Linked DNA regions of Homo sapiens: region 1 is linked to region 2. The links come from fine-mapping of genetic effects on gene expression. A gene starts in region 2. The other region holds a variant in brackets. All regions are shown on one strand. Distances are between the middles of the regions. Region 1 overlaps ST14 (ST14 transmembrane serine protease matriptase). Region 2 holds the start of ST14 (ST14 transmembrane serine protease matriptase).

Region 1 (5,363 bases), 34 kb after region 2:
TCGTACCACTACACTCCAGCCTGGGCAACAGAGCGAGACTCTGTCTCAAAAAAAAAAAAAAAAAAAAAGAGCCTTTATATGGTTTACACAGAAAAGGCAAGACAAATCAGGGTGAGAGGTTTAGAACTGGCTTGTTTGAATAATTTCAGTAGGCTCCGGGGCATAGGAGCTGTCCCTAGTTCTCTGATACTTGGGCCTGGGGTGGTTAGGGCAAAGAATAGTGGCCCTGAGTGTGAGATCCTTTCGGAGGAGGTGGGGCTGGGCCCCCATAGGTGGGTTTGCATAGGGAAGGTTTGCTTGCAGGTGAGTCCTTTCCTATCTCTAAGCATTGGCCAGCCTTCCACAGTCAGCAGGGCCTCAGATGTCAAAGCACCTGCATTACAGAAAACGGAAAGGCGTGGTTAATGCACCTGTGGGATACCCCACGTCAGGGTGGGGCGTACCTCGCAGAGGTGCTGTGCGTGGTGGGTGAGCCGCCTCTCCTGCACTCGCTGGGCCAGAGCCTTCCGTGGCTGTCTAGGGAAATGAGCTCGGCGGACGTTTCCTGATTAATAATGGGCTAAAATTCAGGCCAAGAACAACCTAGAACCATCTGCCGCCACAGCTTCGTAACCAGGACTTCTTTTCCATCTCTCTAATTTATTAATTGTACAACAAAGAAGTACATGTTCCCAGTGGGAGAAGGAAATCGGCAAGCAAAAGGAAGACTAAAGTCACTCGTCATCTTACTGTCTAGAAATAACCACTGTTAATTCTTTTTCTTTGAGATGGAATCTCGCTCTGTCGCCCAGGCTGGAGTGCAGTGGCAAGATCTCGGCTCACCGCAACCTCCGCCTCCTGGGTTCATGCGATTCTCCTGCTTCATCCTCTCGAGCAGCTGGGATTACAGGCATGCGCCACAACACTCAGCTAATTTTTTTTGTATTTTTAGTAGAGATGGGGTTTTACCATGTTGGTCAGGCTGGTCTCGAACTCCTGACCTCAGGCAATCTGCCTGCCTTGGCCTCCCAAAGTACTGGGATTACAGGCGTGAGCCACAGCACCCGGCCAAATTTTTGATGTCTATTTTCCCAGCCTTTTTTGCTGTGTGTGTGTTAAGAAATAGGATTATCCCGTGCATTCAGTCTCATTACCTGCTTTAACAAATGAAGTATATTATGATGGTCTTTCCAAATCAGTCACCCTCTCTCTCAGGGTTTTTATAAGGTTGCATTGTTTAGAAGGAGGGGACACAATCAGGATGACATGGTTGTGAGCAGTGTGGACTCTGGAGCTTGAATGCCTGAGTTTAAATTCTAAGCCTGCCACTTATTAACCATGAGATGTTGGGCAAGTTACTGAACATCTCTGTGTCTCAGTTTCCTCACCTCTGAGATAGGGGTAATAGTATCTACTTCATAGAGCTGTTAGGAAGATTATGAGTTAATAGATTTAAAAGCACCGAGAACCATGCCAGGCATGTTTTTTTTTTTGAGTCTCCTTGTCACCCAGGCTGGAGTGCAGTGGCGCAATCATAGCTCACTGTAACCTTGAACTCCTGAGGCTCAAGCAGTTCTCTGGCCTTGCCCCGGAGTAGCTGGGACTGCAGGCAAGCGCCACCATGCCCAGCTAGTTTTTTTGATTATGGAGATGAGGCGTTACCCAGGCTGGTCTGAAACTCCTGGCCTCAAGCAATTCTCCTGCCTTGACCTCCCAACAGGCTGGGATTATAGGCCCGACCTTGGCATGTTCTTAATAAATGTTGATTGTTACTACTGCTGTTGTTCTGATTGAGCCCACAGTTTATTTAATAAATCCTCTGTTGTGGGCATGTATTGTGTCTAGGGTGTTGCTCTTTTTTTTTTTTTCTGACAGTCTCGCTGTGTCGCCCAGGCTGGAGTGCGGTGGTGCGATCTCGGCTCACTGCAACCTCCGCCTCCCGGGTTCCGGTGATTCTCCTGCCTCAGCCTCTGGAGTAGCTGGGATTACAGGCGTGCACCGTGATGCCCAGCTAATTTTTGTATCTTTAGTAGAGATGGGATTTCACCATGTTGGCCAGGCCGGTCTCGAACTCCTGACCTCAGGTGATTCACCCGCCTTGGCCTCCCAAAGTGCTGGGTTTATAGGCGTGAGCCACTGCGCCCGGCTGGGTGTTGCTCTTTGATTGTGACAAAGGTGAACTGTTTATCACTAGCGCCTTCCATCAGTGATTGTGACAAAGGTGAACTGTTTATCACTAGCGCCTTCCATCAGTGATTGTGACAAAGGTGAACTGTTTATCACTAGCGCCTTCCATCAGTGATTGTGACAAAGGTGAACTGTTTATCACTAGCGCCTTCCATCAGTGATTGTGTGGGGGAGGGACTTACTTGAATGAAGGTCTTTTTGACTCCATTCTTGGCCTCTGTGGATGGGACCAGAGTTAGGGGTGGGGTCCTCAGGCACCTCTGCCTGAGAGCCTGGTTTGGGTGTGTGAGAAGCTTGGGTTCTGTCTGCTCTTCCTAATGCCCGCCCTCTGCCCCCACAGGTTGTGTGGCACCTACCCTCCCTCCTACAACCTGACCTTCCACTCCTCCCAGAACGTCCTGCTCATCACACTGATAACCAACACTGAGCGGCGGCATCCCGGCTTTGAGGCCACCTTCTTCCAGCTGCCTAGGATGAGCAGTAAGGAAGGGCAGGGCAGGGCGGGACTGCCCTCGGGCCACAGAGAAGGGGAAGGCCTTAGTGGGGGTGACCTGAGCTTAGGAGGCCACAGGCTAGACCCTGTGGTTGGCGAGCTGGCCTAGGTCAGCAGCAGAGGCTGAAGCTTGAGCCAAAGGCATCTGGCCGACCGCCTGGGTCAGGAGCCCTCCTGAAGCTTCGGCACCCGGCACCTGGCCTTCCTGGCTGTGCACCTGCTGTGCAGCATCCACGCGTCCAGGAGGCAGCTCCAGGCCTCAGGCTGCAGAGCCCTCGTCCGCCTGCTCGGCCGGGCAGGTTCCTGATCCTCTTGCTTTCTCCCACCTTCCCTCTCAGGCTGTGGAGGCCGCTTACGTAAAGCCCAGGGGACATTCAACAGCCCCTACTACCCAGGCCACTACCCACCCAACATTGACTGCACATGGAACATTGAGGTAGGAGCTATGGG[G/A]CGTGTGAACGTGTGTGTGTGTGAGCATGTATGTGCACGTGTGTGTGTCTCCCTGTGCAGATGTGTGTGGATGTGTGTGCATGTGTTTGCATATGTGTGCATGTGTGTGTGTGTGTGTGTGTGTGCGTATGTGTGTGTGTGAGACAGAGGTGGATGGCAAATGAGGAAGACAGAAGAAAAGGAAGAGGAGATCCTTTATCAACCCCAAAGAGGCAGCCAGATGTCGTGACTCACACCTGTAATCTCAGCACTTTGGGAGACCAAGGCAGGAGGATCACTTGAGGCCAGGAATTCAAGACCAGCCTGTGTAACATAGTGAGACCTCATCTCTACAAAACACTACAAAAATTAGCCAGGCAGGTGATACATGCCTGTAGTCCCAGCTACTCAGGAGGCCGAGGTGGGAGGATCACTTAAACCCAGGAGTTTAAGGCTACAGTAAACTATGACAGTGCCATCGCACTCCAGCCTGGGCAACAGTGAGACCCTGTCTCAAAAAACAACAAAAACAAATAAACAAACCCCAAAGAGACCATGTGTCTTAGGGCCCAGGGTGGGGTCAGGTCTTCCTGCAGTGTCAGGCAGACCCAGACTCTTATCTTAGCTCCTTGTCAGGTGATGGAACGACCTGGGCAGTTGCTGAAGCTCCCTGGGCCTCAGCTTGCCCCTAGGTGAAGTGAGGGTGATAGTGCCTGGGTCTCAGAGGCGCCGTCAGGAAGAAATCAAAGAAGGTGTGTGAGACAAGAGAGTCGCCTGTCCGTGCCGCTCACGCCATCCCAGCCAGAGCTGCCTCCCTTTCCTTTCTTTAAAAATGCCAGGAGGGCCGGGCGCAGTGGCTCACGCCTGTAATCCCAGAACTTTGGGAGGCCAAGGCAGGTGGATCACGAGGTCAGGAGTTCGAGACCAGCCTGGGCAACATTGTGAAACCCTGTCTCTACTAAAAATACAAAAATTAGCCGGGTGTGATGGCGGGCACCTGTAATCCCAGCTGCTCGGGAGACTGAGGCAGGAAAGTAGCTTGAACCCGGGAGTCGGAGGTTGTGGTGAGCTGAGATCTTGCCACTGTACTCCAGTCTGGGTGACAGAGTGAGACTTTGTCTCAAAAAAAAAAAAAAAGAAAAGAGGCTGGGTGTGGTGGCTCGTGCCTGTAATCCCAGCACTTTGGGAGGCCGAGGCGGGCAGATCACCTGAGGTCAGGAGTTTGAGACCAGCCTGACCAACATGGTGAAACCCCATCTCTACTAAAAATACAAAAAAAATTATCTGGGTGTTGTGGCTTGTGACTGTAATCCCAGCTGCTCAGGAGGATGAGGCAGAAGAATGGCGTGAACCCGGGAGGCGGAGGTTGCGGTGAGCTGAGATCTTGCCACTGCACTCCAGCCTGGGCGACAGAGCAAGACTCCATCTCAAAAAACAAACAAACAAACAAACAAACAAACAAACACGCTGGGAGAACTTTGCAACCTGTCTTGGTGATGGAAGGCATACCATCTCTCCCTGGTCCATGCCGCTGCCTCCCTTTGACGTCCTCAGGTTCAGGGAGGAGGGAGGGGAACTGCACATTCCCAGCAGCCTCTCTTCCCTCAGGTGCCCAACAACCAGCATGTGAAGGTGCGCTTCAAATTCTTCTACCTGCTGGAGCCCGGCGTGCCTGCGGGCACCTGCCCCAAGGACTACGTGGAGATCAACGGGGAGAAGTGAGTCCCCGGGGGTATGGGGGCTGCCGGGCCCATGCTGCAGGGGGAGGGGTCCCACCAGACCCCCAGCCCCCCGGCTCCCAGCTGTCCCTCCTCACCTTGTGCCCCGCCCCCCCTCCAGATACTGCGGAGAGAGGTCCCAGTTCGTCGTCACCAGCAACAGCAACAAGATCACAGTTCGCTTCCACTCAGATCAGTCCTACACCGACACCGGCTTCTTAGCTGAATACCTCTCCTACGACTCCAGTGACCGTGAGTGAACATTGTTGGGAGGAGGGCTGGCGGGGGCCTGCACCGCATGTTCTGTCTACCCTGCATCTCGTTAGCATCGTGCTTTGCTGATTCTAAAATGCTGGAGAATGTAAGAGCATCTCACCCCTCCCGTAGCTTTGGGAGGAAAACACGCTACCTTTGATGCATTAATGAAAGCAGGCTGGCTGTGAGCGCTGGCACACACTGTGTCCTTCTGGGTTGCAGTCCCAGCATGAGGTACCTGCGGCTGGAGACGCCCCTCATCTGAGCTTCCCCGGCCATCTGTCCCTCAGGCCCACCTTCAC
Region 2 (5,363 bases):
CTAGGGGAAGGGTCTTGTCCTGCATCGCTTTCTCTTCATCTGCACTAGCAGTCAATGCATTGCATTCATACGGCATCCAAATCACGCTGAGCGCCCAGCTCTACGAGATAAAAGATGAGGCCCTAGGAAGTGGGGAGACAACGTGAGTCACTGCGTTTGCAGCAGCACAGAAGGTCTGTGTGTCAGGAGTACCATCTCATTTACGTCACATTGAATTTGGCTTACTTTCCATCACTCACACTAGTTGAAGAATGCTGTGCCATTGGTAATCCAAAGGAAAATTTATTTTTATATATTTTCTTTTTCTTTTTTTTCTTTTCTTTTTTTTTTTTTTTTTTTGAGAGATGGAGTCTCGCTCCAGGCTGGAGTGTAGTGGCATGATCCCGGCTCACTGCAACCTCCACTTCCCAGGTTCAAGCAATTCTCCTGCCTCAGCTTCCCAAGTAGCTGGGACCACAGGCATGCACCACCATGTCCAGCTAATTTTTGTATTTTTAGTAGAGATGGTGTTTCACTATATGTTGGCTAGGCTGATTTCAAACTCCTGACCTCAGGTGATCCACCCACCTCAGCCTCCCAAAGTGCTGGAAGCCAACGTGCCAGCCTTTTAGAAATATTTTCTGTTTAGCTTTGGAATGCTTTATGTGATGGAAGGCAGCAGATTCATTCTTCTTTCAATTAAATTGACCCAATATATTGTGTTAGTCATTGTGCTAGGCTTTGAGGGTGCAAAGGCAGTTAAGACACAGACAGAAAATGCAACGAAATGGTGGTGAGCTCCATGAGAGAGGTACAAACAGAGCTAGTTCTGGTTGAGAGGGAAGGAAACTCCTGGGGAGGAGGTAGCATATCAGTCAGGAAGCGTGAGGTTTGCAGCAATAACAAACAACCCTCAGCTCTCGGTGGCTTAACATCCCAAAAGCTGACTGACTCCTCATTCATGCTACATATCCAGTGTGTGTCATTGTAGCCACTTAGGGTCACAGGTCACAGAGTTAAACCTCTCAGAAGAGAGCAGGGCATTGTGCAGTGCCTCCTTATGCTGCTATGTACAAGTGGTGTGTCCTCTCATTGGACATTTTCTTGGTTACCGCTAGCCATACTGCCATACCTAACTTCAGAGAAGAGAGAGTAACACCCTGGCCTGTGCCCAGAAGGCAGAGAGCTAAAAACATTCAATGAACAACACTAAAAAACCCCATCGGTGTCTTCGACCCAATATGCGGAAGGAGTATGAAGGAGAAGAGCTTCCAGGGGATGAAAAGCTTTATGAAAGCTGCCAAGATCAGAACGCCTGGCTGGAGAGAGGGGCTCCAAACAGGAATGCTTGGAGGCACGGTGTTAAGGGAGGACAGGGCAGAGTGTGAAGCTGGGCTAAGGAGGTTGGATTTGATCCGGGAGACACGGAAAGTCATAAAGGAGCTGTGGTTTCAGATTTACCTGACTGCTTTGTGTAGGAGAGATCAGAGGGTGGCAGCCCAGAGGCAGGAGATCTTTCTTAACCAGGCAAAGGGCTCTGAGGACTCGAATAGCGGTCTTCTAATGCGCAGGAATGGAAGGGCTATGCTTGTCAGCAGAGTCTTGATCAGATTTGGAACTAATTGGATATGAGATGTAAGCAGGGTGGAGAATCAAAGATGATTCCAGGATTTGAGCCTGGGAGAATGCTGCCATTAGAATTAGAGAAAACAGTGGAAAATGGGCAAGTCAGGGAAGGAAGATGGGGCTTGTTGATCTCAAAGCAGGGATTTTTATTTTGTTCACTCCTGTTTCCCTGTACCCAGGACAGTGCTTAGCGCCTAGTGTGTGCTTGGTAATGTTCATTGGCTACAGAATACAGTAGAACATAAATGGAGACGTCCCCAGGCGACCGCTAAGGCAGAACTGGCACTCCTTGGTGGTGTCTGTGCTGGGAGGGAGGTCTTCCTGTCTGAAGTCGTAAGATGAGACGTGCTGCCAAGAGAAAAAGCTTAGAGAAGAAAGGGATGAAACTGAAGGGAGAACTTTGGGAATCATGACATTTAGGACTAGAAAGGAGGACCGGAATCCAGGGAAAGGGGGCATTTGAGGAAGCATCAGATGCTGCAAGTGGGCGAGGGGCGTTGGGATGGCTCAGAGGGCATCTGGTGGCACAGCTCATGTCACTGGGCCTCCCCAGGGTAGCCGGGCGCAGGCCAGCAAGCGCCTCCCGCCTGGAGAACAGGAGGCTGCGTAGCCGACGGGGAGCCTGGGCCAGGGGCGGTTCTGGTTTCTGTTTGGTTTTGGGGGGTTCATAAATGCGATTTAGTCCTGTAGCAAAGTGAGCAAGGTGAAGGGGAGAGACCGGAGGCGCATGAGGGAGGAGGGAAAAGATGGTTGGCATCAAGGAGGTGGATAAAGGGCTGCCCTCCCGGGGCAGGGCCCCTGGAGGGCCGGAGGGGTGGTGAACGCCGTCGTGGTGATGGTGAGGGCCTTAGCGACCACCACCCGAGTGAGGCCCCCTCACCTTCAGGCCCAGAGCCGAGGGGAGGAGCCTCCCCCAGGGCCGGCGGGGGCGGGCAGGTGAGCCGGGCAGGTGCGCAGGCGAGCGCGGCGGGCTGGGCGGGCCGAGGCCACACCCTGAAACTACCTGCGTGGGCCGGGCCGGAGTGTGAGAGCGGAGCTGCAGCCGGAGAAAGAGGAAGAGGGAGAGAGAGCGCGCCAGGGCGAGGGCACCGCCGCCGGTCGGGCGCGCTGGGCCTGCCCGGAATCCCGCCGCCTGCGCCCCGCGCCCCGCGCCCTGCGGGCCATGGGAGCCGGCCGCCGGCAGGGACGACGCCTGTGAGACCCGCGAGCGGCCTCGGGGACCATGGGGAGCGATCGGGCCCGCAAGGGCGGAGGGGGCCCGAAGGACTTCGGCGCGGGACTCAAGTACAACTCCCGGCACGAGGTGAGCGCGGGCCGGGGACCCGGGGCGCTGGGAAGCTCCTGCCCGCCCGACCCTGCAGCGCGGCGCTGGGCTCGGCCGGCTCCCCTGGCGTGTCCGTCGGTGGCCGAGCTCTGGGCGCACAGGTGGAATTTCCTGTTCAGCGGGTGCCGGGCCGCGGGCGGGCGGGGCTGGCCGGACCTTTGGTACCGGACCGGCTGCGCCCCGCCAGGGGGAGGCGGGAAGCCCCTGGGCCTTCCTGCGCCCTCGGTCCTTTCTTTCCCTGAGTTGAAAAAAGGGGCTCCGTCTCGGCCCCTCCATGACTCTCGCGCTGTTAGTGAACATCTGGAAGAAACCAGGGGCTTGGAGTGGGGTTATTTGGGAGGAAGTGAAATTTCAGGAGGGTTTGGAGTCTCAGCCATCCTTGGCCTCTGCAGAAAGTTTCTTTCGTCTCTCTCCTTCCCCGTCAAAAGGCGCTTTGGGACCTCGCAGAGGACAACTGGGAGGCCAGGGCTTTGGCTGCCATACGGGCTGGAGCTAAGAACTCCAGAGTTGGGCTTGCCTGGGCTTCTCGAGAGGGGATGGAGCCCTTTGGGAAGGCGGCTGTATGGGAAGGGATGTGGGAACACACATGTCTTGAGCCTTTTGCGAAGTACCGAAACAGGAAGCTCTTCTTTGGCAGAAAGAACAATGAAAGACCTATTGAAAGATCTCAAAAAGATTACATGTTCCTGTATGGAGTTGGGGATGGGTCGCTAGTCACTTCATTGACGGACCCACCTAGGTGGTAGTGCCCGGGCGGGACCAGCAGCCAGGTCTCTACCCTCTCTGTCCAAGGCAGACCCCCAGGTTTCCTGGAAGGCCAGGGCATACCAGGTCAGGGCGGCGCTGAGAGGCAGGGGCTGTGTGGCAGAGAGTTTTGCTCCTCTGCAAATGATGGCCTCCCTGCCCTGCCAACCCTCACTTTCTCCCCTCCTTCCGGGTGCCCCTGGGCTCCATAGTCTCCGCCGTTGCTCCCTAAGTCAGGCCTGATTTTGGTGCTGTCTCAGATCAATTCCTTTTGTCCAAGCAGCATCCCGACCTAGGGAGCTTGCAGAAAATCAGACGCTGGGGCTTTGGAGGCTGCCTGCACCACAGACAGGACCTGGGGCTGGGCTCTGCTATTTTCTCCACTTTTCACCCTCAGCAAGGAGGAAAGCTTCCAGTGGACCTGAAGGCTTGGGCCCTTCCCCTGGCTGTGCCTGTGCCCTGCTGTGAGGCAGATTCACCTTCTCTTCCTTGCTGTAATTGCTATGTTTGTGTCCTTGCTAATTGCCTACTTGGGGTTCTAGACTCCCTGCCTCTTCAGCAGAGAACCTGCTGTTTGGAATTTGTTATTTCAGGGCAGTCCGGTGCCCCCACCCCAAGTTTGTTCTCCCTGACTTCCCTTTCTAGGACTCTCCTGCCCACACGGGGAAAGCAGGGTCTTCCTGGTCGTGTGGTCCAGCCTCCTCTCTGAGCCATCTCACCACCTGACAAGCAGCCAGGCTGGGGCTCACCTTCCACTCACCCCCAGGATCCCACATTCAGCGGACTTGTCTTGTCACCTGCAAGCCCTGGCTTTAGTTTCCCCCATCCCTGCTCATTTCCTCCTCCTCTGCGAAGCTCATTTGCTCTCTGCGCCCTTGGGCTGTTCCTTCCCCCTCTGCCATTTTCATTCTCTTGGCTTGCTCTTTGTCTTTTCTCCTGCCGAGCTTTATTGAACTAACTCAGTACCTAGTCCCATGGGTGAAGGGAAGGCTCTCAGAGACCAGTAAGATGTGGTTGTTTCCTTTAAAGAACATCCAGTCTTGAGAGCGAAACTAAGAGACGAATGCCAAAGTTAGCTGTGAGGCGGAGTGTCCAGAGGAAATTGGCCAAAGCTCATTTCCATGTCTTGCAGATTCCTCCCATCCCTGGCCTCACCAGAAATCCCAGTCCCTGGGATCACCCTGTAGTGTGTGTTTGCAGCTAGGATGTCCATCCCCGGCCGGGAGGTGTGGCTGCTGCCCCTGGGTTTATTATCTGGGTCAGCAGAGCCTGGCCCACAGGGTGCTGTTGTTTCTGGGTTCCTTGTCCCCAGTTGCATCCATCCGTGCACCCTTGTTTGGTGGTATTTGTATCTGGCTGTCCCCTTCCCAAGGCTGGTGGTGTGGCCCCTGCCCCACCCCTGCTGTTCCCATCAAGTGTTCTGCGTGGCCTTCAGAGTCCTGATGCACGTTACTGCATCTGGGGATGGTGTGAGCCCTGCCTGCAAGCAAGCAGGGAAACAGATGCCACTTCTTATGGCCATTAATGAGAGCCAGGGAGCCTGCCTCCCTGAGGGTCTTGATTCCTGTTGAGTATTTGATGGTGAATATGAAGCTGCCTTGACATCCACTGGTTCCTTTTCCGATCACAATTGCCCTAGGTAAGACTCAGCATCCCTTAGGCATCCAGAGACCAAGTTTGGAAAAATCGG

Evidence for each region. PIP is the estimated chance that this variant, and not a neighbour inherited with it, causes the effect. A credible set is the group of variants that fine-mapping cannot tell apart.
Region 1: its variant is the best candidate, but not a certain one, in a credible set for the expression of ST14 in whole blood (TOPMed, PIP 0.63).

The regions. Positions count from the first base shown.
Region 1 is chr11:130,191,643-130,197,005 of GRCh38, forward strand. It overlaps ST14 (ST14 transmembrane serine protease matriptase), which reads left to right. Exons shown (of 19, transcript NM_021978.4): 8 at 2,507-2,646; 9 at 2,998-3,095; 10 at 4,697-4,806; 11 at 4,928-5,058. Among named protein-coding and RNA genes, the nearest start is that of ST14, 35 kb to the left of the region's middle. The variant G/A (reference allele first, on the strand shown) is at 3,110.
Region 2 is chr11:130,157,153-130,162,515 of GRCh38, forward strand. It overlaps ST14 (ST14 transmembrane serine protease matriptase), which reads left to right and starts at 2,630. Exons shown (of 19, transcript NM_021978.4): 1 at 2,630-2,908. The coding sequence starts at 2,828. RefSeq lists silencers at 2,509-2,628, 2,709-2,778 and an enhancer at 3,866-4,365.